Regions from separate parts of the Homo sapiens genome. Here region 2 is linked to region 1. The links come from fine-mapping of genetic effects on gene expression. A gene starts in region 1. The other region holds a variant in brackets. All regions are shown on one strand. Distances are from middle to middle. Region 1 holds the start of RAB33B (RAB33B, member RAS oncogene family). Region 2 has its middle 29 kb from the start of RAB33B-AS1.

The links. PIP is the estimated chance that this variant, and not a neighbour inherited with it, causes the effect. A credible set is the group of variants that fine-mapping cannot tell apart.
Region 2: its variant is the best candidate, but not a certain one, in a credible set for the expression of RAB33B in whole blood (TOPMed, PIP 0.62).

What each region holds. Positions count from the first base shown.
Region 1 is chr4:139,451,980-139,456,375 of GRCh38, reverse strand. RAB33B (RAB33B, member RAS oncogene family) reads right to left here and starts at 2,255. Exons shown (of 2, transcript NM_031296.3): 1 at 1,932-2,255. The coding sequence starts at 2,180. It overlaps RAB33B-AS1 (RAB33B antisense RNA 1), which reads left to right and starts at 2,335. Exons shown (of 1, transcript NR_159964.1): 1 at 2,335-4,396. RefSeq lists enhancers at 1,958-2,007, 2,628-2,967 and a silencer at 2,228-2,557.
Region 2 is chr4:139,422,918-139,427,313 of GRCh38, reverse strand. It overlaps the pseudogene LOC100421868. Among named protein-coding and RNA genes, the nearest start is that of RAB33B-AS1, 29 kb to the left of the region's middle. The variant A/G (reference allele first, on the strand shown) is at 2,520.

The DNA of each region.
Region 1 (4,396 bases):
AACAGATAAAGGGCCCTCAAATCCCAACTCCTCCCCCACCCTCATTCTCTCCACTTTTGAAAGAATTTCCTACTTCCGTTTTTGTTTTTGTTTTGTTTTTTAAATTTCTCTCCCCTTAGCTGTCTACCTATGCCCTCCACTATCTCTGCTTTCAACTTTGGGTGTACAACTGCAGAACTAATGGTGGCAAACAGGAAAAATAATGTTAAGCCACCAGGAAAGACAAAGAATCTTTTTAAAGGCACCAACTATGAACCAGGTGCTTCATATATGTCCTCATCTGATCCTCACAGCAGCCTGATAAGGTATCATGATCCCAGTTTTTCGGAAGAAAAATACAGACTCTGAGAGGTTAAAGAATCTGCCTAAGGTCCAGGGTGACCAACTATTTTGGTGTGCCCAATACAGGGGGTCCCCGGGATGTGAGACCCAGTTTTAAAACCTGGACAGTCTTGGGCAAAGTTGGTCACCCTAGTAAGGACACGCAGCCCATCCCTACCCTTTCGTAGGTTCAGATATGAATCCAGGTTAGTTGGGCTCCAAAGCCCACGTACTTCCCAGATTCCTGCTTCTCCCAATCTTAACTCCCTTGGAACTTCAGAAGCTCCATTATTTTTCACCCCAAAGGCTTCTGGGCCAAACCTAATTCTGGTGAAAAATGTTTAGCCTTTTATTCTATCTTTTCTTCTGCAAGTATACAAATCTTTCTAAATTCCCTAATACAAAGCAACTCCAAAACCACCACTGAGAGCTCATATGGGACATGAAATACTAATGTGAAAAATTAAAAGACAGAAGCACCAAAGAAAGGTTAATTTCTTTTAACCCAGCTTACTTCACCTCTACCATCATTAGCAGTATAACCCGTTGGGGTGGGGGGCGATGATTAGGGAACTGAAAAATAAATTGTTCTTGCCTCTAAGATACGAGGGTAGGAACGTCTAAAGCAAGCCTGTTCTCCCACCACTCCCCATCCCCACCAAGAGACTGAGATAAAGACGATCGCTGATTTAAAGCAGTAGTATAAGGCAAGGTGGTTCCACCTATGTTTTAAGGAGTGGCATCAACAGGTGGCATTTAGTGGTGGCTTGCTATGAAGGTGTGTCTAAGGTTTATACCATCAAGAGGCCTAAGCCTTGTCATTGATCCTCATTCCACTGTTAGATTCCAACCCCTCAGAACTTCAAACCTGCCCTGGGGCCTATACTACCTTCTCCACTATTACTGTCACTCAGTGTCCCCAGTCCCAGGGACCAAAAATAACGACTTAAAGGGAATAAAGAATTGGGCGTGTGTCTGAGGTGGCATCATGAGAAATGCTTTTGGCAACCTGAGTAGGAACTATCACATATAGAATGTTTCTGCAGGAAAATAGATTTTTCTAAAATCAGTATCATAAAGAAACTACTACAGCAAAACTGTATGCAAGAGAATACCTAAGTACTTCCTCAAAGGCAATAGGCTTTACTTCCACAACATCTAAGGCACTGCTCGAATGAATGTTTAATAACTATTACTGATTAAATGAATTTTCCATTCTCGCGCAATTTCACTGTTTTTCCTCCGTTCATATTTGACTGACTCCCAGCACACGACACACACAGTAAATGGGTCGGTAGATAAGCCCTACACTCCTGAACTCAAAGTGTGGTCCACGGACTAGCTGCACCTGCATCATCAGCGAGATTATTAAATCATAGCCTGCATTTTCAAAAACAAGATCCCCAGGTAAATCGCATGCACAATGAAGTCTGAGAAACGCTGCCTTAGAAGTTTGCAGTATTGCAATCCTTCCAATCCCCAACTCCAATCTCATCAGCGTGAGAAAAAAATGGAGCGCACACACACCGTGCACACGGCCAGCGACCAGCCCACGGTGGGGTTGGGACACCTGTCACCCTGTCCTCCCCAACAGTTCCCCATCCGCTCACCTTGATGCGCTCCCCATCAATCTCCACCGCTCGTTCTCGGAAATCCACCCCTATCGTGGCCTCGGTGCGGTCGGGGAAGCGGCCAGCGCAGAAGCGGTAGGTCAGGCATGTCTTGCCCACATTGGAGTCGCCGATCACGATTATCTTGAAGATGCGGGAGCGGGCAGGAGGCAAAAACCCTGAGGCCCCTGACACTGCCCCGCTGGACGAAAAGCTTGCCTCGAGCGACGACTCCATCTCCTCAGCCATTCCCCCGACCCGCCCCAAACTGAGGCGGAGGAAAGGAGACACAGAAAGGCTGAGAGATTACGCCACCGCAAGAGCGCGCGCCCAGCCGGCCAGTTCGGCTGCGCAACTTCCCAGGAGCCACCGCCCACCAGCCCCGAGCGCGCCTGCGCACCTTCCCGCCCCGCCCTTGCCCGCACAGGTGTGGCACCCGCCCGCCCCGCCGCACGGAGCCGCCTGCCCGCGGCCACACGCCAGGCGTCACTCGGGCTGGCGCCGGTCTACCTAGGCAGGCGTGGGACCTGTCGGGGGCTTCACGGCAGCGCGGAAGGCCAGCCTGCAGAGAGGCTGGGCCCAGCGCCCTGACTGACCCAGCCCCGCCACGTCCAAGGTTCCCGCCCTCTGGAGGAAGCCGCGCAATCACTCCGGGGGCGGGGAGAGACAGACAACTGAGAGGAAGGAGGTACCACGGGCACTCTCTCGCGAGAGGGCCGCAGAGCCGCCTTTGACGGGGGCGTGTACCTGGAGAGCAACGGTAAGGACGGAGCCGACGGCTCCGGCGTCGGGTCGGTTCCGGCATCGACGTATCGTTTGGTCGCCCCAGAGAGGAGACAGGTTTCTTCAGCTTGCCGCTGAGGATGTGGCATCGGCTGCGCTCACCGCCGCCGCCTCTGTGAACTGCGGGAGTTGGGACAGCGGCCAGGGCTAGATGGGTGGGACGCGAGTCCTCGCCGAAAGCTTGCCCTGTGCGGGGCGCACTTGGAGGCGAGCTCTGGGCCGTGGCGAGTTTTGCAGCCTAAGGTCTTGGCAGGCGCATTGCTGTGGGCTGCCGGAGAGCAGGCTGGAGTTCGAGACCGCCCACCGGAGAGCAGGCGAGAGTTCGAGGCCTAGGTACAGCGCATTTCGCTAGGCATCCCCAAGAATATCCGCGTGATCCTTGTGGCCAGAGTTTGTTGAGCTAATATCCCCAGCCCAAACAGTAGAGCACATCACATGTCGGCCACCTGGGAGCGTTGAACCTGGTAGTTACTAGGCGCCCCTGGTGGAAATAAAACTCATTATGCCCTAGTTATGTCTTAGTGCCTGGGTGACGATGATGTAGCGGTTAAAGATTAACTGAGCGCACTTAGAGGTTGTCTTTGTCTACCTAAGGAAAATATCAATAGATTAAACCCCCAACCTTAAAGAATCTCCGTGAATTTTTCTGAGGAAACGTGCAATATTGTCATACAAAAGGCCCCAAATATGCAAACATTGCTTTTTGTTAAAAGTTTGTTTTGTTTTGCAGTGACATCTGTTTGAGCAGATGAATATGCCATTGGGAAAGTCAAGGACTGTCGGAGAGGAGGACATGGCAGACCTTAACTAAAGTGAGGGGGACAGTAGAGCACTAAAAGTTCTAGGAAAGGAGATGAACTGCTTATTCCATCAGATGAAAATATAGTCAGAACAGATGAGTAGTAGAACTTAAACATGCCCGGAGTTGCCAGGAATTTGCAAAAGCCTTGATATAATTCCTGTTGCTGTAGAAAGACTTTCTACAGTCACTAATATATCAAGTTATGTTCACTAGAAAAAAAGTTTACTTAGTTTATAGAAATGGGCTGAAAAATCCTAATTACTTATCTGTGAGGTTATTTTCATGAAGGTTAATCATCCAGAAACTATTAGAGAGCCTCGGAATATATTTCTTCTAATCTGCTCTACCTATCCCATTCAAAGGAGGGAATCTGAAGATTTAAGGACAAAGAGCAGTTGAAAACTCAGAGCTGTGGTTAATGGGAGAATTTCAAGGATGGTGAAAAAAACTAACATCATTGCATCCCTGTTTTTTGTATTCTGGACTTTTTAGTTTAGCTCTTGGTAAACTACATCAGAAATTCTTTATGCTAACTCTAACACACATTTTGGGGTATTGCTAATTTAATCTTTGAATACTGTTTTTGCTGTTTCATGATTATATGTTATGTCCTACCAGCTAGATTGCCAACTCTTGACTACTGACTGGAAGTTTATTGTTTATTCAGCAAATAATGAATTAAGTCAGTGAAGTGAGAGATTTCGTGTGTAAGGATTGTTAACTTGAACATTTCACCAGTTACACACAGTTCAGCCCTACTTAAATTTTAAAAATCATTGTTGGCACTTGACATTGTTATGAGGAGTTTTGTATTTTCAACTTGTATTTTGAGAGTGTCCTCATGTGACTGAAGTATGTGCTACTCTTCTTAATTGAATAA
Region 2 (4,396 bases), 29 kb after region 1:
AGTCTCGGGTATTTCTTTATAGCAGTGTGAGAATAGACTAATACACAGTCCATCAGGGTATTGGGAAGACTGTGGTTTGCAAGAACACAGCAACATCAGTGGATGCCTTTTGGATGGTGATGGCCTTGTGTTAACTGCCTGCAGCTGATGAACGTGGTGGGGAACATGCTGCATTTCCTACCTGCCTTTGTGTGCAGGTGAAGCAACCAGTCTCGAAGCACTACGCAGGAGTGATGATGATCTGCGACACCTGCATCTACTCAGGCAGCCTGCTGAGCCCCAGCCATAGCTGGATCTGTGACGAGCTCACGGGCAGCAGGGGTCTGACACAATGGGGACCTACATCGTGGACCTGCTGACCCACCCGACCTTCTGGAGAGATGAGAAGTTGCACACACTGTCAAGACATACATGAGGCAGAGTGCCACCATCTGTGGCATCCAGCATGTCACCATTGATGACTTCTGTTTCAAAAAAAAAAAAAAAAAACTACCTGCCGAAACAGGATTCAACACTGTGTAAAAGAAGGAAACAACTTCACAACATCAAGATACTAAGCAATGTAGCAGTTACAACTATACAATAAAAAATTACTAGACACATGAAGATTCAACAAAATATGATCCATACCAGAAGAAAAATCAGTCAATAGAATCAGAAATGACAGAGATCATGGAATTAGCACAAAAAAAACCATTAAAACAGCTATTACTAATATAATTAAGAATTTACAAGAAAATATGAACATAAGAAAAAATGAAGATATGAAAAACAATGAAATGCAGCTTTTAGACTTATGTAATGCAATATCTGAAAAAAATTTAAATCACTGTAGGAGCTTAAAGCAAATTTAATGTAGAAGAAAAGATTGATGACCTTGAAGACATAGCAATAGAAGCTATTCAAGCTGTAGCACACAGAGAAAAATACACCAAAAAGCCAAACTGCTATGAGTGTCTGCAGAAATAAACTTCAGTAGATGTGTAACTCCAAGGACTGTAGGTAGTGGAATTGACAGATATGAAAAGTATAGAATTTCTGTGTTCTGAATATTTTAAAAGGTAAAGGATGTTATAAAGATGAGCAAGAGATTACCAGGAATGGACAGACAGGTTGGAAGGTAGTTGGGAGATGGGGAGATGCTCTAGAAATATAAAATATAATTGTTAGAATAACAAAACTCAGTGGAAAGGTTAAAGAGCAAATTTGATACAGATGAAGAGAGAATTAATAAATGAAGCCACTGAGGTGGCTCATGCCTATAATCCCAGCACTTTGGGAGGCCGAGGTGAGACGATCACTTGAGGCTAGGAGTTCAAGACCAACCTGGACAACATGGTGAGACCCTGTCTCTACAAAAAAGTTTAAAAATTAGCTGGGCATGTTAGTGTATGCCTGTAGTCCTAGCTACTCAAAAGGCTAAAGCAGAGCATGACTTGAGCCCAGGAGTTTGAGGCTTCAGAGTGCTATGATTATGCCACTGTGCTCCAGCTTGGGCGACTGAGGGAGACCTTGTCTCTTAAAAAATAAATGAGAAGATATCTTTAAAAATTACCCAGGGTATACTAAGGAGAGACAAGGAAGTAAAAATATGAAAACAATATTAAGAGATGGAAGCTTGGATAAGAAAGTCACACATATGACTAATTGAAATCTCAGAAAGAAAGAAAAGAAGGAAAAAAGTAGAGGCAATACTCCCTGCCCCCTAATATTTTGTGAAATTGTTCAAACATACAGAAAAGTTGAAAGAATTACACAGTGAACTTTTACATTTACCAATTAATTCTAGAACATTTTGTTATATTTACTGTATCATATAGCTATCCACTTAACCATCCATCAATCCTATTTTTTATGCATTTCAGAGTAAGTTGTAGACATCACCACTAAACATTTTAGTATGTTCATCATTAGTATTCAGTATTGTTCTATAGCTTTTTTGTATTTAAAATGTACATACAATAAAATGCACAGATCTTAAGTACAATATTTGGTAAATTTTTACAAGTGCATATACCTGTGTAACACAAACTGTCAAAAAAAACCATATACTGCTCTTCAGAAAATTCCCTTATGCCCCTTGCTAGTCAATCCCTGCCCTTTACCTCCCACTGGTAAGAAGTGTTCTAATGAGAGGTATCATTTAGATAAATAGTGCTGTGATTTTTGCAGAAATGATGAAAAAAATGAATTAACAGATCTGGGAGTCACAAGATAATGAAAGCAGGATACATAAACAGAAATGTATAATGACATTGTATAAAGAACCTGCAGAATTTGTAAGATCTTACAAGCAGCTAGAAAGGGCAGATCACTTGCAAAAGAACAGCAGTGAAAATGACAGTGGATTTATTATCAGCATCAATGGAAACCAGAAGTTAATGGAATAATACCTTTCAAGTGCCAAAAGATAATGGTCAACTAGAATTATGTACTTGCCCAGACTACCTTTTAAGAAGAGTGAAATAGAGACATTTAAAGATAAGTGATAATTGAGAGTTTAGCTCAGAGATATGCAC[A/G]AAACTCCTAAATGACATATAGTCATGCACTACATGACAAAGTTTTGGTCAATAACAGACCGCATATACAATGGTGGTCCCATAAGATTATATTGGCTGAGTATTGCTAATCCAAAAATCCAAAATCCAAAATACTCCAAAATTTGAAACTTTTTGAGTGCCAACATGATACTCAAAGGAAAGGTTCCTTGGAACATTTCTTTGGATTTTCAGGTTAGGGATGCTCAACACTAAGTATCATGCAAATATTCCAAAATAAAAAAAAAATTCAAAACCAAAATTTTCTTGTCCTAAGGATTTAGGATTAGGGATACGCAACCTGTAATACTGTATTTTTACTGGACCTTTTCTATGTTTAGATATACAAATACATACTCGTATTACAGTTGCCTATTCAGTACAGTAATATGCTATACAGGTTTGTAGCCTAGGAGCAAAAGGCTATGCCATATAGTCTAAATATGTAGTAGGCTATACCATCTAGGTTTGTGTAAGTACAGTCTGTGGTTTGCACAATGATGAAATCACGTAAGGACACATTTCACCTTTCTCAGAATGTATCCCATCATTAAGTGATGTGTGACTGTAGTTGAGAGATAGTATTTCACAGGAGTTAAGAATATGCACTTTGGAGACTCCATAGGTGTGAATCCCTATTCCACCATTTGCTAGCTGTGGAACACTGGACAAGTGAGTTAACACCTCTGTGCTTCAGTTTTTTTTCTCACTTGTAAAATTTTGACAATAATTGTATTCATGGAATTGTTATGAGGATTAAATGAACTAATATAAAATAAAGCACTTAGAACCAAACCTGGAATATAAGTGCTTTGTTAAGTCAGAGCTTAAAAAAAGGAAATTATCATAAAAGAATGGTCTGAAGTACAAAATAGAATGGTGAGTGAATAAAATGGTGAACAAGCTTGTCAGTCCAAACATCAGTCTAGAAAAATAAGGTCCGATTTGTGAAGTTTTGAACTAATGCCTCCAATAACAATAGCAAGTAGGCATTTGGGGGAGGGTCAATGTAATTAAAATTATTCTAAGATCATTACTTCGTTTCAAAGGAAAGTTAAGATATGTTTGCCTTTACATTTTGTTAAGTTAGACACTTATAAAATGCAGGGACAGTTGTTAAAAAAAAAAGGAATAAATACAGAGCTATGAATTCCAATTCAGTGGAGGAAAAATGGAATTTAAAAAATCTAACCATAAAGTCAGTTTTTTAAAAATGCAGAAACAGCCAGCGCCGTGGCTCACGCCTGTAATCCCAGCACTTTGGGAGGCTGAGACGGGCAGATCACGAGGTCAGGAGATCGAGACCATCCTGGCTAACACGGTGAAACCCCGTCTCTACTAAAAATACAAAAAATTAGCCAGACATGGTGGCGGGCGCCTGTAGTCCCAGCTACTTGGGAGGCTGAGGCAGGAGAATGGCATGAACCCGGGAGGCAGAGCTTGCAGTGAGCCGAGATCACGCCACTGCACTCCAGCCTGGGCGACAGAGCGAGACTCCGTCTCAAAAAAAAAAAAAAATGCAAAAACGTTGGGGCTATAAAAATAGTAGCTCAGAAAAAGCAAGGCAAATATAAACAAAAAAGATATATAAACAAATCCAACTATATCAAGAATCACAATAAACATAAATGTATGACATTTACCAATTAAAAGATAGAGTTTGTCAGACTGAAATGAAAAGAAAAATCTAGCTGTATGACATATACAAGAATCTGAAAACATACAGGCAAAACAGTAGAAGATAAGAGATAGAAAAACATATACCAGGCAGATCTTAATACAAAGAATTCACATACATACATTAATTTCAGAAAAAAGATTTTAAGACAAAAAAAGATTATTAGAATAAAAAGGTCATT